3 separate regions of the Homo sapiens genome follow, and regions 1 and 3 are each linked to region 2. Evidence: fine-mapped expression QTL. A gene starts in region 2. Each other region holds a variant in brackets. All regions are shown on one strand. Distances are from middle to middle.

Region 1 (9,883 bases), 72 kb after region 2:
TGGTAGGATGGTGGTGGTGATGATGGTGGTGCTGGTGGTGCTGGTGGTAGTGGTGTTGTACCACCAGCAGCCAGTCATAGTTTCCCATAGTCATTCAGATAGGTCTTTCAAATGTTACCTCATAAATTAAGACATCATGGATACAATTCACTCCGATCATGTGTAATCCTTACTTCTTATTTCCCTCCTCTGACCCCTACAGTAGGCAACTACTCTCCCACTCTCTCAAATTTTGTGTTTATCCATGCAGTATGTATCTGTGACAGTATGTGGCATTGTCTTGTGTGCATTTAAATTAATCAAATAAGTTCATACTGATCACTTTCTTCCATAACTTGATGTTTCATTTCATTTTGTTTTGGTGACTCATCTATGTTGATACTTGCAACTACTGCATAGTATTCCATTATACAAATACAGCATCATTTATTTGTCAGTTCTCCTGACAATTCAGGTTGTTTGCAAGCTGTGACAGCAAACAACATCCCCATGCATCATCTGGTGTCTGACTTTCTGAAGCCCTCCCTAGGGTGTATCTTGAGGAATAAATTTTCTGGGGTCATGTGCATACACATCTTCAACTTCATTCGATGCTGCCAAAGTTTTCTTCCAAGTGGTCACAGCAATCCCTGGAGCTTTTGAAACAAGGACGTGACATAGACCAGGAGTTCTCAAACTTGGGTCCTGGCTGCTACGGATTTCTGAAACTCTTTGATGGGGTTTATGAGGTCAAAACGATTTTCACAATAAGCTATGATCTGCCTTTCTCACTCATTCTGTCACAGTGCATGGTGGAATTTTCCAGGCATGCATGTGATGACATCACAGCTCTGACAGCCAGTGAGATGCATGCTCATGGCTTCTTGTGCTTTCGAAGCTCTCCATTCTAATGAGTATGGTAAACGTTGATCGACAAAACTCTCCCTGACAAAAGCTCTTTGAGGGCCTCAATTTTTAAGAGTGTAAAGGGGTCCTGAGACCAAAAAGTTTTAGGGTTGCCAAGGGACAGACCCACCATTTAGACCTACAGAGCTGGGGAGCACGACGGGCAGTCCACGGGCGAGTTGCTTCAGGGCTGCTGTTCCTCCTTGCCGGGTTTACTTCTTGGGATGCTGAGACAAAGTGATTTCAAATTCAGCCGGTGGAAACAGGCCCTTGTTCTGTCGACTGCCCCTGCTGCATGGATCCTCAGGGGGCAACTCGAGCTCTGGGAACCATCTTGCTGGGATGCACTCCTCACATTCTGGGCCTATCTCAGAGCCATTCCAACTGGCCCCATTTGGCCCATGGGGGTTGCTAACAGTGCGTCATTGATCCAACCTCTCTGATTCCATCCCATTTTGGGAAACTGTGATTTTCAGGCCAGAGGGACACTGCCAGATCTGAACAGACCGGCTGGGAAGGTCAGCACTATGCAGAGGGAGGCAGCCGTGTGAGGGAAATAAGTCGGATGCTTGGGTTGCAAGTTAGACCCTACTTCTAAGAGTGACCTTGGGTGAGTAATTTTACCCTCTGGGTCTCAGTTTCCTCTTCTGTAACATAGGGACGATAATATCTCTTCCTGTCGGGTATTAGCCGATCTATAAAATAGCTGTTGCTCAGAAGGCTCTTGACAACTGTGGGTTCTCCAAAGAGACGAGAACTTGGCTTATTTCTCCAACATCTATGTGTGTCCTCATGCTAGAATCACATTCACAGGCCTCGGCTGCTAGGAATGATTCTGCTCACTGCCAGCTGAGAGGGCAGGGACCCAGATGAAGTTCTCTTCCAGAATAAGTCAGCAATCTGTCCAAGATGGGGAAGACTTGCAGGATGGGGAAGACTTGGCGATAGAGCATATTATGTGAAGAAAGAGGGTCCAAAGTGGTCACTGGCTGACTTGTTCTATGGAAAGGCCCAAGCTGGCAGTGAGTCCATGGAACAGGCAGCAGGGGGTGGGGAATATGGGGCTGCTCCACCTGGCTGTGAGACAGCGCGGAGTGTGATGGCTATGTTAGGTCTGATCTGCCACTCCAGAGCCTGCTGCAGCCAGCCTGGGGAGCAGCTGGGTTCCTAAAACTGTAATAGACAGTGGTGGCTCCACAGAGCAGGCACACCTAAGGGGAAAATCAGCATTGCATTGGGAACGGTGAGGTGACATCACAGAACCTGAATTCTCACTCCTTCTGCAGATTCTCCTTCTTCTTTTTTTTTTTGACAGAGTCTCACTCTGTCGCCTAGGCTGGAGTGCAGTGGCACAATCTTGGCTCGCTGCAAGCTCTGCCTCCCAGGTTCACGCCATTCTCCTGCCTCAGCCTCCCGAGTAGCTAGCTGGGACTACAGGCACCCGCCACCTCGCCCGGCTAATTTTTTTGTATTTTTAGTAGAGACGGGGTTTCACCGTGTTAGCCAGGATGGTCTCGCTCTCCTGACCTTGTGACCCGCCTGCCTCGGCCTCCCAAAGTGCTGGGACTACAGGCACGAGCCACAGCGCCCGGCCAGATTCTCTTTCTTTACCTCCTTCTCTGCTCAGCATCACCTTCCCAGAGCAACACAGCTGAACAACCACACTAGAAAGCAGCCCCTTTTGTTGTTCATCTATCCACACAGAGGAAACAGCAGTGAAGAAACCAGACAAAAATCCCCACCCTGAAGGGGCTGATATTCTATTGTGGGAGGTAGATAATCCAGCAGACACACATAGAATCTGCAGAGGTTTATACAGCAGTGAGTGCTAGAAAGAAAAACAAGCAGAGAAGGGGAAGGGGAATTGTTGGGGTGGGGAGAAGAAGCAGAAAGTGTGAATAAACTGTGCAGGAAAGACTTAGGAAAAAGTGACTTCGGAGTTAAGATATGAAGAAAGTGAGGGGGCTTCATTGTGGGTATCTGGGGAAAGAAGTGGGCAGCCGAGAGTATAGTAAGTACAGAGGGAACATATATCACCATGGAACAGTAAGTGCAGGGGAACAGTAAGTGCAGGGGAATAATAAGTGTAAGAGAAACAGGAAGTACAGTGGGAACAGGAAGGGCAAGGGGAACAAGGAGAGCAGGGGAATAGTAAATGCAGGGAAATAGGAAGAGCAGGGAAACAGCAGTGTAGGGGCACAGAAAGGGCAGGTGAACAGTAAGTATGGGGGAAGAGTAAGTTGGGGGTAACAGTAATTGTAGGGGGATTAGGAAGTGCAGGGGGACAGGAAGTGTAGGGGAACAGGAAGTGCAGGATTAATAGTAAGTGCAGGAAACAGTATCAGCAGGGGAACGGTAAATGAGGGGCAAATAGCAAGTGCAAGGAGGCACAGTAAGTGCACGGGAAGAGTAAGTGCAAGGGGAGCAGTAAGTGAGGGGACAGTAATCAAAAGGTGAATAGCAAGTGCGGGAGAACAGTAAATGCAGAGGTAACAGGAAGTGTAGGGGCAACAGGAAGTGCAGAGGAAATAGTAAGTACAAGGGAACAGGAAGTACAGGGGAACAGAGGTGTGTAAGCACAGGATGTCTGGGGACACAGGAAGTGCAGGGAACAGTAAGTGATGGTGGAACAGTAAGTGCTAGGGTACTGTAAGTTCAGAGGAAACAGTAAGTGCACAGGAATGATAACTATAGAGTCCTGCTGTTGTTTTACCCCTGAGACTCCTGTTCACAAATTAACTGTGCTAACTTGTTTGTTAACACAGTTTCTTGTTGATCTCCCTTATTGTGTAAGTTCCATGAAGGCAGGGATTTTGGTATGCTTTGTTTACTGCTCTCTCCCCAGTGCCTAGGATAGTGACTGGTCTTATTGAGTGCTCAGTAGCAATTTTGTTAAAGGAATGGATGGATGAATGAATTGGTGGGTGCTGTAGGGTGGGGAATGCTGAAGGATGGGAGGCTATATCTGATGTTTGACAGTGAAATCAAGCAGCACAGTCCCGATAGCTGGGGGTGTGTGGCTGGGGCTCAGGGCTGAGGCCACTGAGATGGCTCCCAGGGAAGACAGATTCTGATCCAGGACCAGGAATGCCAACCCGGGGCAGCTTGAGATAGGCCACACTGATGGCTAGAAGGGCCAATGCTCTGACCAGGGCTGGCTGGTCAGAGCATTCCATCCTGAACGTGCCTGGCCTGATTAGATGTTCCAGCTGGCAATGCCTGAGGGTATAGTGCATCCTCAGGAAGTGCTAGAGCTCTGGGGCAGGTGGGCATAGGTAAGGGGCCTGGGGTAGGAAAGGGGAGTGTTCTCTTCCTGATCTCCCATGTCAAGTATCATATAAAGGGACTCTGGGGACCATTCCCTTCCAGTCCCCAGCAGAGTCTGGTCAAAGGGGTGTGATGGCTGTGTTGTAGTATTTGTGGTTTGGATGGCCATATAATTTATTGTTCAAATCACCAGCACACCTTTTTGGGGTAACATTTAAGATATATTTTAAAAATAATTTCAGATGTACAGAAAAGGCACAAAGATATTACAAATAACTTTTTTTTTTTTGAGACAGAGTCTTGCCCTGTTGCCCAGGCTGGAGTGCAGCAGCATGATCTCGGCTCACTGCAACCTCCACCTCCTGGGTTTAAGCAATGCTCCTGTCTCAGCCTCCCAAGTAGTAGCTGGGATTACAGGCACCTGCCACCATGCCTGGCTAATTTTTGTATTTTTTTAGTGGAGACGGAGTTTCACCATATTTGTCAGGCTCGTCTTGAACTCCTGACCTCAGGTGATCCACCCACCCTGGCCTCCCAAAGTGCTGGGATTACAGGGGTGAGCCACTGCGCCTGGCCTACAAAAAACTTTTATCTCCTGGACCATCTGAGAGTTGCTGACATGATGCCCAACACCCTGAAGCCTTTAGTGTGTTTTTCCCTCTAACAGACCATTCTCTGCAACACAGCCATCCAAATCAGGAAAGTAGCACTGAGAGGACACCAGCATCTGATCCCCAGACCCCACTGAGGTTTTGCCAATTGTAGAATATCCTTCGAACAAAAGGATCCAGTTCAGGACCACACGGTGCCCTGAGTTATCCCATCTCCTGAATCTCCTTTAGTTAGGAACATTGTTCAGTCTTTCCTTGACATTCATCAATTGGATGCCTTTGAATGTTATCCTCCAGCATTTTTTGTTTTTTTGAGATGGAGTCTTCCTCTGTTGCCCAGGCTGGAGTGCAGTGGTACAATCTCGGTTCACTGCAACCTCTGACTCCCTGGTTCAAGCGATTCTCCTGCCTCAGCCTCTCGAGTAGCTGGGATTATAGGCACTCGCCACCACGCCCAGCTAATTTTTGTATTTTTGGTAGAGACTGGGTTTCACCAAGTTGGCCAGGATGGTCTCGATCTTCTGACCTCGTGATCCACCAGCCTCGGCCTCCCAAAGTGCTGGGATTACAGGCATGAGTCACCACGCCCGGCCTCCTCCAGCATTTTTAAAAAAATAGAATGCCCCTCAATTTGGGTTTGTCTGCTGCTTCCTAATGATTAGATCAGGTTTTGTGTTTTCAGAGGGATGGCACAGAAGGGATGTTGCGTTCTCCTCACTGCACCCCATTGGGGTCCACAGTGGCAGTTCGTCTTATCACTTGATTATGGAAGGAGCCTTCTTCCCTGTAAATGTGGGAAATGTGCTCTTCCCCTTTGCGAGTAACATGCCTCTGTGGGGAGGCAGTGCTTTGAGCCCAGGTGCATCCTCTCTTCTCCCTCCACCTTCCATTTGCCAGTTTTTTTTTTTTTAAATTGAGATGGAGTCTTGCTCTGTCGTCCAGGCTAGAGTACAGTGAC[A/G]CGATCTCAGCTCATCACTGCAACCTCCGCCTCCTGGGTTCAAGCAATTCTCTTGTCTCAGCCTCCCGAATAACTGGAATTACAGGCATGTGCCACCATGCCTGGCTAATTTTTCTACTGTAGTAGAGATGGGGTTTCACCATGTTGGCCAGGCTGGTCTCGAACTCCTGACCTCAAGTGATCCACCCGCCTTGGCCTCTCAAAGTGCTTGGATTACAGGCATGAGCCACTGTGCCTGGCCCTTACTTGCCAGTTTTAGTATCCTTTGATTCTTGCCTGAAACAATTGTTCCCCAAGTGGCGGCCAAATAATGACTTTCAGATCACATACTCCACCCCTTCCACATTTACCAGTTAGCTTCCACTGTTAGGAAGAGCATTCTCTTCTCCCCATGCATTCATTTATTTTAAAATTTATTTACATTTATTTTTATTTATCATTCAGAGGAAAACAGGGACATTTTTGAGAGTGGAAGGGGCAATAGGTACATATTCAGGGATGATAGGTATAAACCAGGACTGTCCCCAGAAAACTGGGAGGTGCGTTGACCTGTGACACCCCTCACCCCCACTCCAGCCGGCTTCTGGGTAAGGAAAGCGGCTCTGCTACCACTCCAAAGGGGATGCCTGCCTGCCCAGTTCCAGGAGCCAGGCCTTGGAAATTCTCCTGACACCCCCTACTCTCTCATCCCCATATCCATTCTGTCACCAAGTCCTGTGCATTTTACTTCCAAAATGTAGCTTCGATCTACCTGTTCCTTCCCACCTCCACCAGCCTGGTCCACGCTGCCATTCCCTCTCCTCTAGGCCAACACTGTCATTTCTATTCTGCCCCATCCTATTCCATTTGCACACTCAGTCACAGAGACCTTTGAAACACACAGATCTATTCGGTGGCTCAGCCCCCTCCCTCGGCTCCCCTCTGGCATGGCCCCCATGTGCTCCTCCCCTCCCTCCCCATCTACGCCCCAGCACCCCAGGCCCTGGAGCCCTCAAACTCCCAGGTTTCCAACCCTAACCTGCCAGCCATTGAAGCTTACAGATTCTTTGTAGTTATACATTTTTATAGTTACAAAATCATTTTTTCACAACCATTCAAAAACGTGCAACAGTTGAAATTTTATTGGAAGGTAACTTTGGCACCACTGTCACCTTTCAGATTCAGTCACAGCAGCTGTGCCCAGTCGACATCCCACCTGCCACCAGAGGGCTCTCTGTAGTGCCACAGGTGGTCCTCATCCACTACTGCCTGCCCGGCCGCTTCTCATCAGTGGTGACTGTCAGGAACCCAAAGGACTGACCCCTGAAAAACATTCCTGATCCCGGACTGTGCTTAGTCAGCTCAAGCATGAAACCTGGTACATTGGTATAAAAAAATTTATGCTTGTAAGGCTGGTTGCGGTGGCTCACACCTGTAATCCCAGCACTTTGGGAGGCCAAGGCAGGCAGATCAGGGTGGGTCCCGGTTAGGTTGGAAGTTTGAGACCAGCCTGGCCAATATGGTGAAACTCCGCCTCTACTAAAAATACAAAGGTTATCCAGGCATGGTGTTGTGCGCCTTTAATCCCAGTTATTCAAAAGGCTGAGGCACGAGAATCACTTGAACCCGGGAGGCGGAGGTTGCAGTAAGCCGAGATCACACCACTGCACTCCAGCCTGGGTGATAGAACGAGACTCTGTATCAAAATAAAAAAAAAGAAAAAAAAAAGTTATGCTTGTAGAAGCCAACTCAAGATTAATTTACATATTTAAAAATATTTTCCTTGGAAATTTAATACACATCCAATATCGATTATCTTCTTTAAGTACTTTGTATCTTATTCTTCCTGTCAAGCTTTGCACTATAAAGGTGATGTCATGCTTTTCTGCCATGCCTCATGCAGGTGGCACCTCCTTCCTCACCCCCACGTCTTTTCCAGGTGAGCCGCGATGCGCAAAAGGTTGGGATGCCTGGCACAGGATGCCAGCTAGTCGATGTCTTTAGAATGCCCCTGCTGTCTCTCCCGGGGCTAAATCCTATTCCACCGTGAGCCTTCCTTGACCAGCAGAGAATAGAAGCGCCTGGTACATACAGGCCACCAAAGGTATCTGTTGAACAGACATGCACACGGCTTCTGCCGTGGGCCAGGAGGGCCCACTCAGGAGCCTGGGTACTTTCCCTCCATAGGCCATGTATTCCTGTGAACAGATGAATAGGGCAGATGCTGCTTTTATCCCTATTTTACAGGTGATAAAGCTGAGGCTCAGAGGGGCTTAGAGACTTGGCTAAGCTCAACAAGCTGCTGGGAAGTAGTAGAGCTGTGATTCAAATCCAGGCATTCTGGCTCCAGGACCATGCCCTTAGCTGCTGTCTCTTCATGCGCCAACCTTTGTGATGCTGTATTTGTTTGTAGTATATGACTATTGTGACCTCTGTGGGGGCACTTAGCACAAGGCCTGGTCCTTGGTAGGTGCTCAATACATATTGTTTAAATGAATGAATGAAAGCAATTATTGTTCCTTTAGATGATCAAAATTTCCACTCCACCCTAAGTTCCCCTTTCATGGAATGAAGGGATACGAGGCTAGGGAAAGTCAGCTTGGGACACTGATGGATTCTCAGAGGGCAGAGCTTGGCCTTCTTGGCCTGCCAGTGGGCAGAGAGACCCTCCCTACCCGAGGGGGCCAGGGAAGGCTTTGCTATGGCAGCGACATTGAGATAGGGTTTTGAAGGATGAGTGGGAGTTCACTGAATCTCAGAAGTGCAGCCTGATGGAATCTGGGGTTGGAAGCAGCACATGTAGTGAAGGGTCAGTCTCATCTTCAAACGACCTCCCCATCATTTAGGCTGGAGGTACAAAGCAGGACTATAGGAACATATACAGATGGCTGTGAACCCGTGACATGGCCAAAGGTTTCCTCTCATCCCTTTTGCTGAATCATTTAGTGCTGTTCAAAGACAAGGCGGTTAAGCCTTGTTCCCTTCGATGTCTCTCACTTGGAATGGATGCTTCTGGCTGCCAGCTGCTCTCCTCCTCTGTGGCTGGAAGCATTTTGGGTTTCTGGGGGTCTTCTCTGAGACTGCAGTTATCCTAGGCATGAAGCAAACATGAGCATCACTGTCTGCTGACCTCTTAACTGTGGGCTGCAGATGAGCAGATGGGGCAGGGGCACAGGGAGCAGGGTGTGGCTCCAGAGAGGAGCTGGAGATCTGGGTAGGGTGGGGACAGGTGGGTGGCCTGCGACACAGGCTAGCTGGCAAGCACCACAGTCCCATGGCCACAGGAAGGACATGTGATGTCAGCTGGCACAATCTGGGGACCAGAACCAGGAGACAGATATCAATTCTGAACGGACTTCTTTCAACACCTGGATCCACCTAGCCCCAGAGTCCTGCACTTCACAATGACTCAAAATCCTCCTGTGCTGTGAAGCCAATTTAGGACGGGTTTCTGACTCTGGCTACAGGAGGTTCCAGGGCAGAGGAGAGTTGGCTTGGTTCAGGGACCAGAGTGAGGCCTGCAACCTCTCCCATGGTTGTGCCCAGAGGAAGAAAGACCATGCAGGCTCAGAAACACTCCCGGATGTCCCTGGCTACTATGCAGAGGAGGGGCAGAGCTGAGTAGTTTTAGAGACTAAGGTTGAAGAGAAAGCACACATGCATTCCCTTTATGCAAAAACACATGACAGATTTGCACTGGGACCTGCAGGAACCACAGGCTCAGGCCCACAGACACAAGACAGAAGAGCACACACACACACACACACACACACACACACACACACACTTCAAATGGTTTAAACTTGTGCTGCAAAAAAAGTACACGCCCTTTGACCTAAAAATTCCGTTTCTGGGAAGCTATTCTTAGGAGAGAACTAAGGATGTGTACCAAGACTCAGATGCAAGGAATATCCCTGCAGTGCTGTTTGTAATAATAAAAAGCTGGCAACAATCTAGATTCTAATAAGGGGTGCTGAAGTCCGCTGTCGTTGGAGGGCACAGTGGCATGCTATTCAGCCCTCAAGAGGAAGTACGGAGCTGTTTACACAGAAGATGAGTGTCATTTATTGTTGAGTGCAACAAAAAGCAGCTTGAAAAATAATCTGAATGGTATGAGCCCATTTGGGTAAGATAGAAGTCAGAAGCAGCTTGGAAGAGGGGCTGAAAAATTTGCTCGGTTGCG
Region 2 (9,883 bases):
TTGTTAAAACAGAGACTGTTAAGCCCACCCTAGAGTTCTGAATCCAGCTGGTCTGTGACGGGGCCCAACAATTTGCATTTCTAGCAAGTTCCCAGGTGATGCTTCTGTCCAGGGATCAGATCTTAAGAACTGAGAATCTGAAACCACTAAATTTTGGGGTGATTTATTACACAGAAATAGCCAAATGATACATTAAGACAAATTATAAATCAAGTTCTCCTTTTGGATCAGAGTAGTGTTTGAATGGTTAAATTCCATTCATTCATCCATCCATTCATTCATTCTTCAACCAAAAAGCCTTTATTAAATGCTTATTTGGACTAGGCATGATCCAAGGCTATGTTGGTACAGAAATAAGAAAGATAGGGTCCCTGCCCCAAAAGGGTCAGTTTCTACTACAGAGACCAGCAAGAAAACAAATCATTATGGAATAGTGTAACAGTGACCATATAACTCTGTTTGAGCCACAGGGTTAGTAGGGCAGGGAGAGAGATCTCAAAGGTAGCTACTAACAGAACTGCTCATGGCACTGTACTAACTGTGCTCAGTACACTGTGAAGGAGAAAGGAGGCTGGAGGAAATAACAACACCGGGATCTCAGGAACATGTGTTCAGTTTCCCTTTCTCTAGGGTAGACAACCATGCCACTCAGGGGGGCACATGGCCGAAATGCCCCACACTTCACGATAAAGCAAAACAGCAGAGACGATACAGAAACATAGATGTGTAGACATGAGAGACGCCTCCATTAGAATTACAGTCCTCATAGTGCTTCACCGCTGGAAGAAAAAGAGAGCTCTTTTACGAACCCCTAGCAATTCCCCCTGCACTCATCTGTCCCGAACACTGCCCTCTAATCAGCGCTTCTCAGACTGAAATGTGTGTGAGTCACCCGAGTCTTCTGACACAGTAGGTGTGACTGATGCTGCTGGTCTGTGGACCACACTTTGAGTGACAAAGCTCAGAGAGGTCTTTTTATTTATTTTTTATTTTTATTTATTTTTTCAGACAGTTTCACTCTTGTCGCCCAGGCTGGAGTGCAATGGCGCGTTCTTGGCTCACTGCAACCTCCGCCTCTCAGGTTCAAGCGATTCTCCTGCCTCAGCCTCCCGAGTAGCTGGGATTACAGGCACCTGCCACCACGCCCAGCTAATTTTTTTTTTATTTTTAGTAGAGATAGAGTTTAACCATGTTGGCCAGGCTAGTCTCCAATTCCTGACCTCAGGTGATCTGCCTGCCTCAACCTCCCAAAGTGCCGGGATTACAGGTGTGAGTCACTGTGCCCAGTCAACTTTTTTTTTTTTGAGATGGAGTTTCTCTCTTGTTGCCCAGGCTGGAGTGCAATGGCGTGATCTCAGCTCACTGCAACCTTCGCCTCCCGAGTTCAAGCGATTCTCCTGCCTCAGCCTCCCGAGTAGCAGGGATTACAGGCATGTGCCACCATGACCGGCTAATTTTGTATTTTTAGTAGAGACGGGGTGTCGCCATGTTGGCCAGGCTGGTCTCAAACTCCTGACGTCAGGTGATCTGCCCACCTTGGCCTCCGAGAGTGCTGGGATTACAGGCGTGAGCCACTGCACAGGCCGAGAGGTCTTTTTAAAATGCAAATCTGGTTCTATCATTCTATCATACAGGTCAGATCCTTTGAAAAGGCGAGAAGGCTCTCATAAACTGACCATTACCTCCCCTCCCCTCTCTGCACCCACCTTCCCCAATCATACTCTACGCTTCAGACAAACTGACTACCTGCAATTTCCAGAACACAGCCGCCTCTTTTGCCTTCTGGGTCTTTGCATATGCTCTTCTGCTTGAACATCCGTATCTCCCCATCTCTGTCCTGTCCCACCACCCACCTGCTAATTCTCACTCCTGCCTGCAGTCTCAGCTTCCGAGAAGCTTTCTGTGGCCACTCCAAGTCTGGATGAGACACCACTCCTCTCTATCACAGCCTTCTCAACAAACTACTGTCACGCCACTTTTCTCACCAAATTGTAAGAGACCTTCATACAGCCTCCATTGTAAATGAGGAGTCCCTTGTTTCAATTCCACCCTGTAATTCCAGTGCCTAGCACAACCTTTTACACATGATGGGGACACAATAAAGGTTTGAATAAATAATTAGTAGTCTAATCCAACCCTCTTGTTTTACAAATGAAATAACTGAGGCCTGGTGGGATTAAGGTCAAACAGCTAGTTAATAGAGGAGCTGAAATTAGCTGGTTTCTCCCACACACACACACACACACACACACACACAAAATTTGTAATCCAACCCTCTTGTTTTACAAATGAAATAACTGAGGCCTAGTGGGATTAAGGTCAAACAGCTAGTTAATAGAGGAGCTGAAATTAGCTGGTTTCTCCCCCACAAAAACATCTTGTGGATGCTCCAGGAAGAAGAATGGAAAGCTATTACTTGTGGGGCTGGGTACCTTCCTTCCTCCAAAGGATACGTGAAGGAAGAGAATATGTAAAACAGCTTAAATATTTCATGTGCTTTAAGGGCCAGGGAAAGAAGCCAGAGCTAAAAACTAGAAGATACCCCTTTCCAAACACTCTGCCCAGGGTCCCCACAACCAATCCAATCAATTGAAGGAATCTCTTCTCTTGAAAAAGACCAAATTAGTAAAGTGATTCCCAATGTTTCACAAGCAAGAATCCCTTTATTTACATTTGCATGTGGCCCCTGTGTTTGGAAATGTTTCATCTATAAACTGTACTTATTTAATAGTTATTTTCTAATTTTTGAAAAGTGAATCAGAATCATGTAGTACTGCCAATCAGATGTGATCCAATTATAATTGAACTTTGGTTTCAGGTGGGCTGTGCTCTTATTAGAGGTAAAATTTCTATTAGACTCTCGATTACAAAGAAAAATACAGTCACTCCTGAGCTCCTATTCTGTGCCAAACAGTGTGTTAGGCCCTTCCTGGAGGTGCAACAAGAGACAGATGAACAAGAGACAGGCTTTGCCCTCAGGAAAATTACAAACTCTTGGGAAGTGGAACCCTAAGTTCTTTAGGGGATATGAGCCGATGTAGCAGACTGCTTTGCAAAAGCAGTATCCCCAGGGCTGGCAGGGAGCCAAAATACAAGAAACAAATCTGGAAAAACTCATTCATGCATTCCAGGAAGAAAAAAGTCAACTGATGGAAAATGTTTATAATAATTAAATAATACACATTGTATAGGTTCCCGGGGCACCCGGGCAGCCTGCCTTTGAGAGGGCCATGAACTGGAGATCTGTATCTGCATGCTCCAACCTCCAGCAGGTATGCTGGGAAAGATATTACTTCAGCCTTGTTAGAAAAGTGTAAACTGATTCTCCCTAAGAATTTTGAAATTCACTCTCTACAAAACCACTGAAGGATTAAACACGGGTTGTCTCTCAAACCTTGGCACTCTCTCTCGGAGCTGAACTGTGGCATGGCAGGGAGAGGCTGTGGCATGGCAGGCGGGGAGGCTGCTGCCGTCTACACCCTACTCTGGCTCCTCGGAATGGCTTGGAACTCAAGAAGACTGCTCTGCCCTCTCCAGGTCATTGTGCCCAGAGGAGCCTGTTTCCTTCCCCACTCTGGGGGATAAAACACTTTCTAGTCAGTCCAGCTGTCTGTGCACAGTACTGTGGTCTGGTGTGTTTGCTAGGCCCCTTCCCTGTCATTTCCATGGCTCCAGTGAGCCCCCACCTCTCTGAGCTCTCCCACCTGTCAAGCCAGGAACCCATAACCTTCCTCTAACATCTCTCCCTTTCCTTCTTTGTCTTCCCTTCCCAATGGTCTAATAGGAATTGGCAAAGATTTTGAAAACCCTACTGAAGAAAAAGGAATCTGGTATTTTCCCGGTTTTTCATTCCTTTTCCAGTAAACAGTTTCATTTTCTTAAAGTTATTTTTCCCTCTAATGACTGTTTTGTCTTTACATAGAACTTGATATTTTCAAAGGCCTTGGCAATGGGTATTTATTTAAGTAATTACAAGAGGTTACTTATTTTCAAACTTGCCCACCATAAGATGACACCAAAATAGTAGCTGAGACATAGCCATTCTGTGTATAATTAGTTTTGCACTTAATAATTAATCTGCCTTAATTGAGACCCCACCTGACTTAAAATTTCAGAATTACACTCTGCGTGTGATTGATTTCCTTTTTCCCTCTAGCACCTATAATTTTCTGTTACATCATCACACCCAACAGAGGAGAGAGAAAAAGATGGCACATGAAAAGGATTAGGGGATCAGCCTCAAAGAAATGAAAATCTGACCCAAACAAACACAGAAGGAGGCAAAGGAAGCAGGCTGACATTTGGGGAGGTGAAAAAAACAAGACCCCAGCGATCCTCATGTTTTATCTTACCTTTTCAAATCAGTCCCTGTGATCTGCTCCCGGTGCAAAACTCCTTTCTGATTTCCACCATCAGCTACACCCCACCTCTCCCCTAAGCAGGGTCTTTGAAGTCCAGTCTCCCTAAGCTCTTGGCAGACACCAACATGGGAGGGGCCCTGCAGCATCTGTCACACAGCTCCTCACCCTTAAGTGTCAGCGACAACAGGAACTGCTGAGCACAGTCACGCTACCTCCACTCTGTAAGCACCTGAGAAACAATGCTGACAGGTCCCTGAAGGGCTTCCACACAAAGGTGTGTAAGAAAGAGACACACTGCTAGACACACGCACATGCCCTCCAAGCAGGGGGTAAGAAGTGCGTCATGAAGAGCATGCACGGGAGAGAGGAGCCGGGAGGCAGGCTGCCTGCAGTCCTCACAGCTGGTCACATAAGCACATGGGCAGTTACAGCTGGGCCTGGGTCCATGAGGACGTTGCTGGCCAGTTCTGGTTTATGACTGTCACACAAAGAAATAGCAGACCAATCAATTGATGTTTATTTATTGAATGTCGCCTTTTTCCAAAGAGGATTTACGGCGTGAAAGAATACAGGTGGGTTTGTGTGAGTGTCTGAGCCAACACTGATGGACATGTTTTTCTGTGCACACCACCTAGGGCCTTTCTTCATCCCTAGACTGACTGTGGAGAAAATGTACCCTCCCTGAACTGAGCCTTCCCATGACATGCACAGGAATGTGCGAGGGACCACTTTCCCCTCCCAGCCATTTACCCTGGGATTCTGCCACTCTGAGTCCCAGGTTCATGGCCCACCTCAGGCAAAGACTGTTCCTCCCTTCCCATAGAGACCCTTCACTAGTTTCTCTTTCACTCACACACATCTGGACACAAAGTGCCTGTGTCTTCATGGGCCAGCTGCGTGGGAAATGTCCTGTGCACACTCCTACATGCACATACACACTCCTACATGCACATACACACATCATACTAGGACGCTATTTTGACGTGTGCATCAGAAGTGAAGTTACAGCTGGCTGATGAGTGTGCACAGGCACACATGCACACTTCCTCATCCGGGTATTCCTCCAGCAGCACCAGTCACACCTTAACATACACCGTAACACACTCCCTCTGCTCTGCCAGTGTGTGCAGGAGCTGCTCAGCTATGACCTTATTTGACCCACCTTTGCAGACAGCCCTTCTCCCCGCCATTTCCATAGTGGCCGCCTGCCTCATGGGCTGTCACACCCCATGCCCACCTCCCTACACACCCCCTCCACTAAATCCCCGTCTGCGCTGGAAGCCATCAGGAGGCCCGTCTCTTTCTCTCTCAGGCAGACACATCCCTTTCACACCTGTGCCACACCCCCAGCCCGCCACGCACCCACACAGCCCGCCGCCCGGCGTGGCTGCTGAATGGAAACCACACATCTGAGTCTCACACCTCCCTCGTGTGTGAGCTGCGTGGGAGCCTCCCGCCGTGTGCTGTCACGGGCCTTCCGTGGCTGTACGCCCGTTTTTGTCAGCTCCTAATAGAGTCGCCCAGAACAGGAGAGAATACCCATTCACCGTGACACACTCACACTCCCTCCCGGCAACGCCACGCGTAAACAGCCACCCGCGCCTCAGCGTACCCGCCCCACACTCCGCAGGCGGCCCCTGGGACCTTCACAATGCGGCCTCCTCCCCGCGTGGCTGTCACACACGCCTCTTCCCCCGAGTGCGCAGGCACACAATGCACTCGCACACACACAAGCACACGCACACACATGCACACCCACACGTGCGCGCCCCCCCGGCCCGCGAGGCAGCAGCCTGCGCACCTGCCCCTGAGAGCCGCGGCGTGGGGGCCACGGTGCTGTGTCCCAGCTTCACCGCCGCGCCTTTGTCGGGGGTCGCCCGGCACGCCAGGCGCCCGCCGCGGCCCCCACGCACCCACTCCTCGTGCGCGTGTGTCGGGGCGGCGCCGCGGCCCGGCCGGGACACGCGCGCTCCCGGCGGCGCCGCACTCTGGCCCCTTTGTTGGCGGCCCGGGGAGCTGTCCAGCACCGCGCCCACGCCGCCGCCCGCCCTCCCGCGCTCGGGCCCGGAGCGCACTCACCCCCAACCAGCAGAAGCAGCAGCGGCGAAAGCAGCGGCGGCAGCCGGGCGGCCCGCAGCAGCCGGCCCATGGTGTAGCCGTCGCCGCCTGCAGCCGCAGCGGCGCGGCGCCCGGGCCCGCGTCAGGGGCCGCGCGGGCGGCGGCGGCGGCGCGCGCCCGCCCCATTGGTCCGCATGGCCGTCACTCACGCCCGGCCCCGCCCGGCCGCGTGCCGCGGGCGCGCCCCCGCGGAGACGAAGCGGACGCGCGGGCGGCCGTCCCTCCGCCCGTCCCCCCCGCCAGGCCGGCCAATCAGCACCGCCGAGGCTCGGGGGCTTGGCCCGGCCGCCCGCAGACCTGGGCCTCGCACCTCGCGCCCGGATGCCGCTCTCTCCCCGCGCGGTCACCCGTTCCCTGGGAAGCAGAGTGGGCAGCTGTGGCAGATGGGACTGATGGGACGAGGACGACGCGTGGAAATGACTGTGAGGGTGGACAGAGGCCTGGGGTAAGGAAAGACTTCTCAGGGTACTTAGATTGGGTGAGCCCTGAAGGAGAACCTGAGAGCAAAGAACTGGACTTTAGAGCTAGGCAGTCTGGCTCAGGATCAGATTGGTTCCGAGACCTTGAGTAAATCTCTTCTCACCTCTGGGCCCCACTTGCCCCATTTGCTAACTGGGGGGTTTTAGATTATGAGAGAGGTGCTGACTTCTCTAACATGTGCTCCCTTTTGGCAACTGAAGATCCTTAATATGCCAAGCACTGTAGTGGTAAATAAAACAGGCACATCCCTCGTCCTCATAGTTTAGGCTCGTAGAGAAAACAGACTGAAAAACAAAATGGACACACATATGGTCCTATGATTGCAATTGGTAGTCGGTCTGTTAAGGAGTATAAGGGGCTAGGAGACAGCACAGAGGGGAACCTTATGCTTGCCTTCCTGAAGAAACAGCATTTAAGGTAAGCTGGCTGGCATCTGGAAGGATGAGTGGGTATTAGGTAGGAGATTGGGTTTGGGAGAGAACTTACAAGGCAGAGGGAAAAGCTCACTGATAGAGTTCCTGAGTTAGAAAGAAGCTCAGCCTCTTTTAGGGAGAGAAAAACCCCGACTACCCTTTTAGAAGTACTGCAGCTTAAATATACAGCAACCACAATTTTGTGGAATGTTACTTTATATATACCATATTAGGAAAACACTTCTTTAAAATAACAAATCGTTATTTGAATATGCTTTTTCAAAGTATATCCCCACCCCCCTATGCAGGGGTATAGCATCAGACATTGGAGATAATCTCACGGGACTCTTCCAGACTAAATATTAATACTTAGGAGAAATAGGAGTTGGGGTGGAGGAGCATAGGGAAGAAATGGGTTCCAGACAAAAGAAAGAACATGAGCAAAATGTAGCACCTTTTATTTGGTGGGTGTTAGGGGTACTAGAAAAGTGGCTGTCAGCTGGGCTTGGAAAAGAGAAATCCAGGGTGTGTCTAGACCCAGCTTCCCTCTTCTTTCCTCCTCTGAGGATGAAAGGAGCATCCCTTTGGTTTTTTGTTGTGTTTTGTTTTGTTTTTCTGTTACAAGAAACAAAGATCTTAGAAGCAAACAAGAAATGGAAGGAAACGTCCTCAATTCCATTAAGGGTATCTCCCAGAAACCTTTATTATCATACTTAATGGTGAAACCATACTTAATGATGAAACATTAGAAACATTCTCTTTTAAGTGAATGGAACAAAATAATCCTCACTACCACCACAATGATTGAATATTCTATAAGAGACACTGCAACAAGGCCTGATAGAAGAAATGGGATGAAAGTATTGGGGGAAAACTCATTATTTGCAGGTTTATCTAGAAAATGCAAGATCATCAGTTGGCAAAATAATTGAAAACCAATGAGTTCAGCAAGATTGCTGAATAAAAGATAACGTACAGAAATCAATAGCTTTTCTGTGTATCCTCAATAACCACTTAGAAAATGTAGTAGGAGAAAAGATCGCAATCACAGCAACAATTATTAAAAACTGGAATAAACCAAACCAGATATGTAAGCTCCAAATGAAGAAAACTCTAAAGCTGCCAGGGGTGGTGGCATGTGCCTGGAATCCCAGCTACTTGGGGGAGACTGAGGTAGGAGGATGGATCACTTGAGGCTAGGGGTTTGAGACCAGCTTTGGCAATATGGTGAGACCCCCATCTCTAAGTAAATCAATTAGCCAGGTGTAGTGGTGCATGTCTGTAGTCCTACCTACTTGGGAGGCTGAGGTGGGAGGATCACTTGAGCCCAAGAGTTCAAGATCAACCTGGGCAACAAAGCAAGATGCCATCTCTATGAAAAATTTTAAAATTAGCCAGGCATGGTGGCACACACCTGTAATCCTAGCTACATAGGAAGCTGAGGTGGGAGGATTGCTTGAGCACAGGAGTTCAAGGCTGCAGTGAGCTATGATTGTGCCACTGCACTTCAGCCTGGGTGACAGAGTGAGACTCTGTCTCAAAAAAAGAAACAAAAATTTAAGTGAAGGCAATCCTCAGAATGGGAAGAAACATTTGGAAATCATGTATCTAGAATATACAAAGAATTTTTACAAGTCAGTAATAAAGACAACTCAATGTTTTAAAATGGACAAAGATCTGAATATACATTCCTCCAAATGTCAATAAGCACATGAAAACATGCTCAGCCTCATTAACCATCAGATAAATGCAAATCAAAACCACAATAAGAAACCACTTCTCAGGCTGGGTACGGTGGTTCACGCCTGTAATCCCAGCACTTTAGGAGGCCGGGCTGGGTGGATAGCTTGAGGTCAGGAGTTGGATACCAGCCTTGCTAACATGGCAAAACCCTGTCTCTACTAAAAATACAAAAATTACTCTGGCATGGTGGTGCATGACTGTAATCCCAGCTACACAGGAGGCTGAGGCATGAGAATTGCTTGAACCCAGGGGGTGGAGGTTGCAGTGAGCTGAGATCACACCACTGCACTCCAGCCTGGGTGACAAAGCGAGACTCTGTCTCAAAAAAAAGGAAACCACTTTGCGTCTCACTAAGGTGGGTGGCTAGAATTAAAAAGAGAGACCACGTGTTATATAGGATATGGAGAAAGAACCCTCCTCGTACACTGCTGATGGGAATGTAAAATGGTGCAGCTGCTTTGGACATAGGCAGTTTCTCAAAAGATTAAGCATAGAGTTACCATATGACTTCATAATTCCACTCCTAATACATACCTAAGAGCATAGAAAACATATGTCTAGTCAAATACATTACAGGAATGTTCATAGCAGCATTAGTCATAATAATCAAAAGGTGGAAACAACCCAAATTCTCATCAACTGATGAATGCATAAATAAAATGTAGCATACCCATACAATGGCATGTTGGTCAGCAATACAAAGAAAGTACTGACACATGCTACAACGTGGATGAACCTTGAAAACATTATTCTAAGTGAAAGAAGCCC
Region 3 (9,883 bases), 31 kb before region 2:
GGTTCTTACTTTATTCACTGATTGAGTATGGGGGGAGAAGGAGTGCATGCCCGCCCCTGCCAGAGCAAGGGTCCATGCACCATGACCCACAGACCCCTGGTTACAAAACAAGCACTCTCCTGCCACATGAAGTGCCTGCCCTCTGTGCTGTGGCTCTGTGCTCTGCTGTGTTTGCACACCCCATGTTTTCCTGGGTACATATGTCTGCCTGGCTTAAGCCCAGAGACCCACAATGTCAGTGTGGGAGGATCTGATGACTGCAGATTTCATACCACTTATTATGTAGACAGGAAAACTGAATGTCCGTGGCAAGGGGGAAAAGCCCTGACTTTGGAATCAAATAAATCTGGGTTCTGGCCAGGTGCACTGGTTCATGTAATCCCAACATTTGGGAGGCCAAGGGAGGTGGATCACTTGGGCCCAGGAGTTCCAACTCCTGCACAGACAACACGGCAAACTCCGTCTCTACAAAAAATGCAAAAAAATTAACCAAGTATGGTGGTGCACATCTGTGGTCCCAGCTCCTTGGGAGGCTGAGGTGGGAGGATCACGTGAGCCTGGGCAGTTGAGGCTGCAGTAAGCTGACATTGTGCCACTGTACTCCAGCCTGGGTGACAAAAATAAATAAATACATTGGTTCAAATCTTGCTTCTGCCATTTGTCAGCTCTCTGTGATGTCAGCAAAAAAAAAAAAAAAGAAGTACCTCTCTGAGCCTCAGTTTCCCTATTTAAAAACATGGGCAATGGTCCTGACACCCTACCTTACTGTGAATAAGTAAAGTACTTATTCAATCACAGGTGCTGGGACAACTGGATATCCCATGGAAAACAAAAAAAGTTCCTTGATTCATACCTGACATCATTTACCAAAACTAATTCCAGATGGACTACAGATCTAAAGTTTGTAGCAGTAAGCACAGGAGGACATCATCCAGTGGTGATGGATTAGAATTGGAAATACTGAATTTGTACTTTTAATATGTGTACATGCATTATACATGATATATGTATATCTATGCCCTAGAGAGAGACAGAAATAAAGATCCATATTGCTCAGTTCTTCTAGAAGGGCCTAGAAGCAGTGACACCCCAGTAGCCATGAGCACACCTGGGGCCCAGATCTTAGTTTCTAAATACCTTTCCTCATTAAAAGGAAGCAGGACTCCTTGCAGAAATGGCTAAATTGGGGGCTGGGGCAAGGAAAGTCCCATGCAGCCTGGAACATCTTGTAAGCACGTGTGTGGCATGCACTGAGAAACTCTGCAGCCTCAGGCAAAGGACTGGCGCCTCATCACTGTGTCAACGCTGCTTCTTTATCCAGATCTTGATGATCCAGCCCTTTGCATGGAAGCTCTATTTCAGGATTTTCACTAAAGGATGATCCACATATTTCTCCTCCTTGTCCTTATCCTCTAGCACTTCTCTCTGTTGTGCTAGACAAAGGATCAGATCCTTGCATCTCTACAGTAAGGATTTCTTTTGCCTTCTAGAACTCAAAAACACCACCTCTGGATTTCCTGTTTTATCTTTCTTCCTCCTCTCATGTTTCCTTCTTAGACTTCTTTCCAGTTTCTTCTATGTTACCTGTGACATCTAGGTAAAATAGAAGCCACTGAGCCTGCATCACTTTCTCTAGATCTTGAGGGCTGAACTCCTGGAACTCCTGTAGTTCCATCGTGTAAAACTTTCCACAAGAGACTGCCAGCACTTTTCTCCCTGTCTTTTTCTGAATATGTAGTCTCTGTATAGCCCATCAGTTTTTATGCACATTTATTCCTTTCATTTTTCAAATAAGTCAAGGTCATTAAATGCAAAGAAAGGCCGAGGAACTATTCCAGATTAAAGGAGACTAAAGAGACAAGACAAATAATGTGATGCATGACCATGGATTATATCCCGGCATGGGAGGGAAGAAGGCTATAAAGGACATTATTGGAACCATGGTGAAATTGAAATAAGGTAGGTAATCAGATAATAGTTTTGTAGCAGTGCTAATTCCTGATTTTGACCATTCCATTGTGGTTATCTAAAAGAATATTCTTGTTCTGAGGAAACACAAACTAATGTATTTGGGGGTAGGGGCAAAAGGAAATAATGTCTTCAACTTTTTCTCAAATGGTTTGAAAAAATTCTAACAAGTGGTGAATCTGGCAAAGAAACTAATAAGTATGTTGATAAAATATAGTAAGCATTGACTGTTAATAATAATGACTAATGCTCAACATCACCAATCATCAGGGAAAATGCAAATCAAAACCACAATGAGACCATTTAGGTTGGTGCAAAGGTAATTGCGGGTTTTGTCATTACTTTCAATGGCAAAAACCGCAATTACTTTTGCACCAACCAAATACCTCACTTCTCTCAGGATGGCCACTGTTTAAAAAAACAGAAAAGAACAAGTGTTTATGAGGATGTGGAAACACTGGAACCCTAGTGCTGGCGAAAATGTAAAATGGTATACTCATAGCGAAAAACAGTATGGAGATTCCTCAAAAAAATTTAAAATAGAATTACCATATGATCCAGCAACCCCACTTCTGGGTATATACCCAAAATAATTAAAAACAGAGTCTTGAAGATATATTTGCACAGCACATTCCCAGCAGCACTATTCACAATAGCCAAAAGATGGAAGCAATGCAAGTGTCCATGGACAGCTGCATGGATAAATAACATGTGGTATATACATACAATGGAATATTTTTCAGCCTTAAAAAAAAAAAAAGAAATTTCTGCCACATGCTACCAAATGGATGAACCCTGAGGACATTATGCTGAGTGAAATGAACCAGATGTAAAAATGACAAATGTTGTCTAATTCCACTTCTATTAGGTATCCAGAGTAGTCCCATTCATAGAAACCAAAAGGAGAATGGTGGGTGCAAGGAGAATGGTGGGTGCCGGGACTGGGGAACAGGTAGTCATTTAATGGGTACAGAGTTTCAGCTTTGAAAATGAAAAAGTTCTGGGGCTCTGTTCCACAACAATGTGCATATACTTAACACAACTGAACTTATATTTACAAAGGGTGAAATGGAAAATTTTATGTTTTTTACTACAATAAAAAAAATCTACCATAAAAAATAATGATGACTAATTGAGTGGAGGTCACATATTAGAATAACACAGAAGACAAAAACAGGGAAAACAGAATAAAAGCATCTTAATATCTATGTATTGATTGGCAAAAAGATACGAACTTTAGGCTGTATTGTTCAAGTATGCACACCAAAAGTTCAAGGGTCCCAAGTACCCATCTGTGGTCTTCATGTACCATTTCCCAATGAAGGGAATGAGGGCTCCATGTCTGGGGGAGGAAGGTGAGCCTGGAATGTCTTATTATGCCAGAAAGCAAGGAAGCAATCAGACACTTAATAGATTGGTCAAAAGGACTCAGAGGCCAACTCAAAGAGGCTTTCCCTGGCCAAAGATGAGGTATTGAGCATCAGTAAAAATAATAACTGCAATGGATGAAAACACACATCACTTAGGTGAAGATCCATCAGTATAGTGATGGTGGGGGAAACCAACCTTGCTGGGGACTTTTGGATTCAACGCATGCATGTCCCTTCAGTCTTGCCCAGGCCCACTAACAAGAGTAAAGAATTTAAGGCCTAAAACCAGAGACAAAGCAAAACAGAAGAGGAGACAAGAGCAACAAAATCTAGACACTGGAAGCAGATGGTGAGTTAGAATTTCCTAATTTAGCAAACTCTAAAGAGCCAAACCCTAAGCCAAAATGAGGAAAGCTGAGAAGCAATCAGATGCATACTGATTGACACTCCCCAGATGCCCCGGAATAGGGGCCCTGGTTACCTTTGGAAGAGGGGATGAAAATGCTACTAAAAATATGAGCTGGTCGAAAGTTTGCTTAAGAAACGGCTGGGTCCCTAGTTCTTCCCGCAGTGCTGCACAGCCAAGAAATGTCCCTTCTCCCTGGCAGAAGACTGGAAGTTTATTCTTTAAAAAAGATAAAACAGAGGGTCTCTGACCTAGAGAGCATCAGACACAAGTGTGTGTTTTGGGGAGGGAGAAGGTCACTCTGCAAACAGGAAGAGACAGTACATGAATATTGATATTTATGGATACATATTTATAATACTGAAACACCCAGCCCTCTCTCTCCACCCCAGCTCCCAGAACACTGACAACCAACTTGTTATACTTCGAACAGAACAGAAGTTCCCTTTTCAAAGACTCTAATCACCTCAGGAGGAAGGACCTAACAATGCTGCCATTGCAAATTTCTAAGTGATACGGCCCAGCCAGACCACTCTCATGAGAAGCCATAGCTGACAACCCTAGCACTATGCTCAAAGCTTCCAGCCACTTTTTCGATAGAGAGAGCTATGAACAAACTCCACCAGACATGTGTGGAGAGCATGTATATATATGAAAAGGCTGAGACCC[A/G]AAACGGAGAAAAGCAACCTATACAGGAAGAAAACAACTCTAAAAAAGACAGAAAGGTTTCAATATCACGGGAGAGGTAAGATGGTGCACACATGAACAAAGTATTCATTTAAATTAAAAAGAGAGGGAAGCAAGAACCAAAGAGCCTTTGGACATTTTAAAATACGAAAGCTCTCTGTGTGTAATGTTGATGGCTGCTGGTATATCCCTGGGCCACCAACTGAAGGACTAAGCCTTCTCCCACGCACTGCTTGTCCCCCCAGCCTGCCCTCTGCCCCACCCTGTCCACTGCCTGCAGCCTTTCCCTGCGGTTCGGAGCCTGGCTGGGCACTCACACAGTCTATGTTCTCTGTCATGTTCAGAATGATGTAGTTTTTCCCAGCCAGATTGCTCCAGTCCTTGCAGATCACCTGTGCGAGGAGACAGAAAGAAGGGCGACAGTTACGAAGGCATAGGAAAGGGACAGGGGAGAGAGCCCCGGTCGGAGGCCTTTTGGGAAGCTGGAAGGTGGAGGCCAGTGGAGGCGTATTACAGCGAGGGGGCTGCTGACAGCCTCTGTGAGGCACCATGCCAAGGAGTACAAACTCGAATGTCTTTGGGGACCAAGCAGGGAATGTATTGAGTGAGAGGAGGAGGCCAGGCATTATTCCCAGGAAGTAGGGGACTATATCAAAGGGGCCAGGCTGCAGAGAGCTTGCCCCACATGCTGGCTTTCAAGGGCAAGTTTATTGTTAATATTCTGGGGCTCCTTTCTTTTCCTTGCGGTGTCAGTGGGTGTGAACACTGACTTGTGCCTGCTATGCACATGGGTGTCGGTGGGGAGGAGGAGGGTGGTGAGATGGGATGGGGAAAGCACAGGTCAGCCACTAGCTCTAGCTGCTGGTAGAATCAGTGCAGAAGTCTAAGTGTGGGCTGGGTGCGGTAGCTAATGCCTGTAATCCCAGCACTTCAGGAGGCCATAGCGGGTGGATCACTTGAAGTCAGGAGTTCCCGACCAGCCTGGCCAACATGGTGAAACCCTGTCTCCACTAAAAATACAAAAATTAGCCAGGCATGGTGGCACATGCCTGTAATCCCAGCTACTCAGGGGGCTGAGGTATGAGAATTGCTTGAACCTGGGCGGTGGAGGTTGCAGTGAACCGAGATCATGCCCACTTCACTCCAGCCTGGGCGACAGAGTGAGACTCCATCTCGGGAAAAAAAAAAAACAAAAGATGTCTAAGGGTGGCAATGGTAACACATGAACAAATGAAACCCAGGCCAGGCCACCAAGTTTCTCCAAAGGCCTTTGCACAGAAGTGTGGGGAGAACACCCATTGTTGGCCCTGAGGTTTGCATCCCCACAAGTTCCATGGGGTTCTACGTGCTGTGGAAAGGGCCTCCCTCCTCAACCTGGCAGATCCTGCCCCCATGCCACACTAGCCCTGGGGATGGCCAGGCTCTGTGAAGAAGGTACAGGGTGGTGGCCCGCATGCCCCTCACTTTACCTGCGTAGAATCCCAGGGTATCCTGGATTGAGCTTCAGCTGCCTGCCCTTCTAGGAGCTGCTGGTTGAGATCTTCTTGTCCCAAGGTAGCAGAGGAAGGTGTCAGTTCCATGTCTCCAGGGGCCAGTGGGGAAGAGGCTGAGGTTCTAGAGCCAAGGGGATCTTCATCTGGGTGCTCGGCCCCACTGGGAGCTGTGGTTTGAGGGAATGAAGGCAAGGCCGGCACCTCCTCGTGCTGGCCAGACAAACCAGCTGCTCCTGCAGTGGCTTCCTCGCTTGCTTCCTGAGGAGCCTCGAACTCTACCCCAAGCCCTGCAGCTGGCAGCACTGTGGCCTCTGCCTCTTGGCTGGTGGAGTCCTGGTCCCCCGGAGTCACTGTAGTTGGGGTGACTGAAGGCAGCAGCAAGCTGGGCCCCATGCTGCTCTCCACCTCCACACCTGATGAGGCCTGGTCCCCGGAGTCTTCATGCCTGCTTTTGGTGGCCCCTGGGGTCTGGCTGCTGCTGGTGAGAGAAAAGTCACGGACCTGAGGCTTGGCTTCTTCTTGGGATCCATTCACAGGGAGCAGCTCCTCCTCTTCCTCCTCCTCTTGTTTCTCTACCTCTTCCTTCTCCCTCTCCTCCTCTTCCTCTTCCTCTTCTTCCTCCTCTCTGGGAGGCATATGCCAGGGAGGCTCAACCAGATTCATCTTGGGCAAGGGAGAGGGGAGGTTTGGCAGCTCTTGAGCCTGGCTGGTGTCTTCAATGGAACCTGCCTTCTCAGTTAAGTCAGGAAAAACATAATCTAAGGACAGAGATGAAAAGTTCATTCACTTGTTTCATCATTCATTGCTTTACTCAGTATTTACTGGGCAGATGGCATAAAAGAACCACAATACACTGACAGGGCAGGGGTCATCAGGTCATGATGGAGAGGCCAGGGGAGCAGACTGTGGGAGGACACAGGGACAAGGCTAGTCACTGTTTCCTTTATGATGATAAAATAATACAAATTTATCACCAAAACTCAATGAACACAGGAATGTAGAAAGTTTTGTATATTGCATTCCTCCAAAAGAGCCATGAGTAGTTTGAGGTATATATTCTCCACTGTGTTTGTAATGTGCTTGCTTGTCCTCATCTGGGGATTTCACCAAGAAGATCCCACAACAACCCACTAGGAAGGGTCCCCCTACTCCTTTTCTAGTGAGTCGTTATAAGAGTCTTCTTGGTGGAGTCCCCGAAGGAGGTCTGAGAGCCCTCTCATCACTGGAGGAAGTGAGACCCCTCAATTATGACCATTGTTCCTCAACTGTGCTCTTTTTCTGTAATTTAGGCCCTGACAGGAAATGAAAAAGATGTAGGGAGAGCCAGAGAGAGGCCAGGGGCTGAGCCCAGAGTTTTCCAGGGCCTCCCAGAATGTTCAGGGTCACTGTTGGCAATGGGAGAGGGGTTTTTATTCTCCCTGCCATTCTTGGGAATTACATTTTGAAGCAGAGAAGTTAGGAGACTTCCTGGAGATCAGATTGTTTTCTGGCTTTTCAATGAACCCTAGGCCTCTTCCAAATAACTATGCATGAAAGTTATACAACAAGTTTTTTGGAAATTCATTCAAAATATCAGAAGCTGTATCTAGGAAGCAACTTTTATTGGCTGCCATTTTGTTTCAAAATAATAAATATTGTAGTTTTAAAATACTCTTTAGAAAGGAGAGTGGTGGGAACACTTTAAGATAGCGAACTAAAGGTATTCATTTACCTCCTCCTCCAAAACTTTTATCAAATGACAAAAACAATTTTAACTGTCAAAATGAAGATAAAAACATTTTAGAGAAATTTCTGGGAACATGGAAAGCAGATGAGATTATAGGAACAGATAACCCCTCAGCCAAAATAAACATAGGAAAAAATAGCAGGGGAGGAGGCAGGCTTTCTTACCCAGAGTTAGGAAGAGGCACAACTGTGGGAGCAAGGATGTAGAACACAGAAAATTCAGAGAACAGAAGGTAATTTTTAAAAGTCTAATTAGTATCCTCAGAAAGATTACAAAATATTGCATCCCTAAAATAAGACGCCACTCAGAAAATCAAGTAATCTTTAAAAAAGAAAAATTTCTTGGATATTGAAAGTCAATAGTTGATATTTAAAAATTCAACGGATTGAAAATTCAAATTTTTAATGGCTGGGAAAAAAAAAAGTCAAGGAAAAGCCTCTAGGGCAAAAGTGAGAAGACAACAGATAAGAGTTAAAAGATACAGACAACCAATGTAGGAGATCTAATACCTAGCTAATATGATTTCTGGAAAGATAGAACCAACAAAATGGAGAATAATGGAGAGAAACAAAGAAAAAAAGTTTCAGAGCTGGCAACATGAATCTTTGCAATGAAAGCTTGTATCATCAAGGTGAATGATAAAAGACTTACACCTAGCCTCATTCTCATGTGATTTTAGAATTATAAGGAGCAAGAGAAAATCTTAACAGCTCTCAGAGAAAGAACAGGTTATCTGTAAAGGAACAAGAAACAGATTACCAAATTATCATGAAGCTTCTAATTAATATCAGTAGCCTAGAGGAAGAATTTAAAAATGCACTGAAAAATCTGAGGGATGTTTATTTTGAACCTGAAATGTTATATCCAAATAAATGACTACTCAAGTGTGATTGCAAAATAAAGACATTCTCATACATGCAAAGATTTAAAAGTGTTACTATCCACAGATTCCAAGAGATTTAAGTAAGTTATTTAAGAAACCAAAAAAAAAAAAAAAAAAAAAGACATGGGAAATCAAGAAACATGAGAGGAATGCAATGAAAATATATCTCAGGATGGAAACTGTGCAGTAAGCCTGGAAAGCAATTGGTTCAAATTAGAACACACAGAGAGAGCTCTGAGAACGATTATTTCAAAAAGAAAAATTGATTCCCTGTAATAAAAAGTATGACTTAGAAGCTGAACAATCCTAGTGACAACTGAAAGCCCACTATAGTATTTAAATCAATAATTAGAATATTCTATCCAGTCCACTTCTGTTAATTAGACTTTTTGAGTAGCAGATCCTCCCCCTCTTCCACCTACTGCACACACTCTGTAGTGAAGTCACTACAGATAAATAAGAAAGAAAGAACAACCAAGATTCACAAGACATTTTAAGAAAGCCAGCCTGATGAAGAAGCATAAGGGTGGGACCATAAAGCAACTGACCTCTAGGAAAAGTTAGTCTAGTTAACAAAAGAGAATTCAGAAAAGTTTCTTGTTAATATCTTCAGAAAGATTCAGGAGGAAATCACACCCACAAAACAAGTATATAGAAGAATAAATATATTTTACCTCAATGTAAGTAAGAACTTTATAATAGCCAGATCTATCCAGAATTAAGATATAATGCATGAAAACATAACTGAAATGGGCTGGATGATTACTTGATAGGAATACTGGGTAACAGAATAGGAGTCAGATGGGTGCCTAGGAAATACAATATATGAAATCACTTACAAGCATAATATTTCATTATTGGAAGATTAATCTGACAGCAATTTACAAGATTAGGTGAAGGAGTAGATGAATGAAAGTGCAAAGAAGAGTCAGGGAGTTGCTGCAGTGATTCGGGAGAGATGCATGGCGGTGATGACACTGGAGATGATGAGAAAAGAGCAGACTCAAGAGATGACTCTGAAAGAGAAGTAATCAGATGCGTGAGCTAGATGGCCAACAGGGAGAAGCTGCGGGAGTAGCCAAGCCATTAATAGAGATGGTGAAGTTCAGAGGAAAGGAGTATTGGAAACCTTCAGGACGCACTTAAAATAGCTGATGGATTCAATGCAGCCTAGGATATGGCAGGAATATGGTGGATGGTGACACACCCATCAGCAGAATCCCATGGGGTGGGGAAGTCCTGGGAGGGCAAGCTGACTAAAACGATCTCTCTACTCAATTTGGTGCTGACTTTCCAAAAGTCAGAGAGAGCATCAACATCTCCAGAGGGCACCAACAGAACTCCCTAAAC

Evidence for each region. PIP is the estimated chance that this variant, and not a neighbour inherited with it, causes the effect.
Region 1: its variant is the best candidate, but not a certain one, in a credible set for the expression of PODXL2 in whole blood (TOPMed, PIP 0.60).
Region 3: its variant is the best candidate, but not a certain one, in a credible set for the expression of PODXL2 in whole blood (INTERVAL, PIP 0.75).

The regions. Positions count from the first base shown.
Region 1 is chr3:127,553,809-127,563,691 of GRCh38, reverse strand. It overlaps LINC02034 (long intergenic non-protein coding RNA 2034), which reads right to left. Exons shown (of 7, transcript XR_007096067.1): 7 at 6,815-8,791. Among named protein-coding and RNA genes, the nearest start is that of MIR6825, 17 kb to the left of the region's middle. The variant A/G (reference allele first, on the strand shown) is at 5,722.
Region 2 is chr3:127,625,847-127,635,729 of GRCh38, reverse strand. It overlaps PODXL2 (podocalyxin like 2), which reads right to left and starts at 6,545. Exons shown (of 8, transcript NM_015720.4): 1 at 6,441-6,545. The coding sequence starts at 6,510. It overlaps LOC107986126 (a long non-coding RNA gene), which reads left to right and starts at 6,767. Exons shown (of 2, transcript XR_001740892.2): 1 at 6,767-6,924. RefSeq lists an enhancer at 5,843-5,902 and silencers at 6,303-6,432, 6,543-6,612.
Region 3 is chr3:127,657,177-127,667,059 of GRCh38, reverse strand. It overlaps PODXL2 (podocalyxin like 2), which reads right to left. Exons shown (of 8, transcript NM_015720.4): 3 at 5,901-6,682; 4 at 4,749-4,823. Among named protein-coding and RNA genes, the nearest start is that of ABTB1, 11 kb to the left of the region's middle. The variant A/G (reference allele first, on the strand shown) is at 4,414.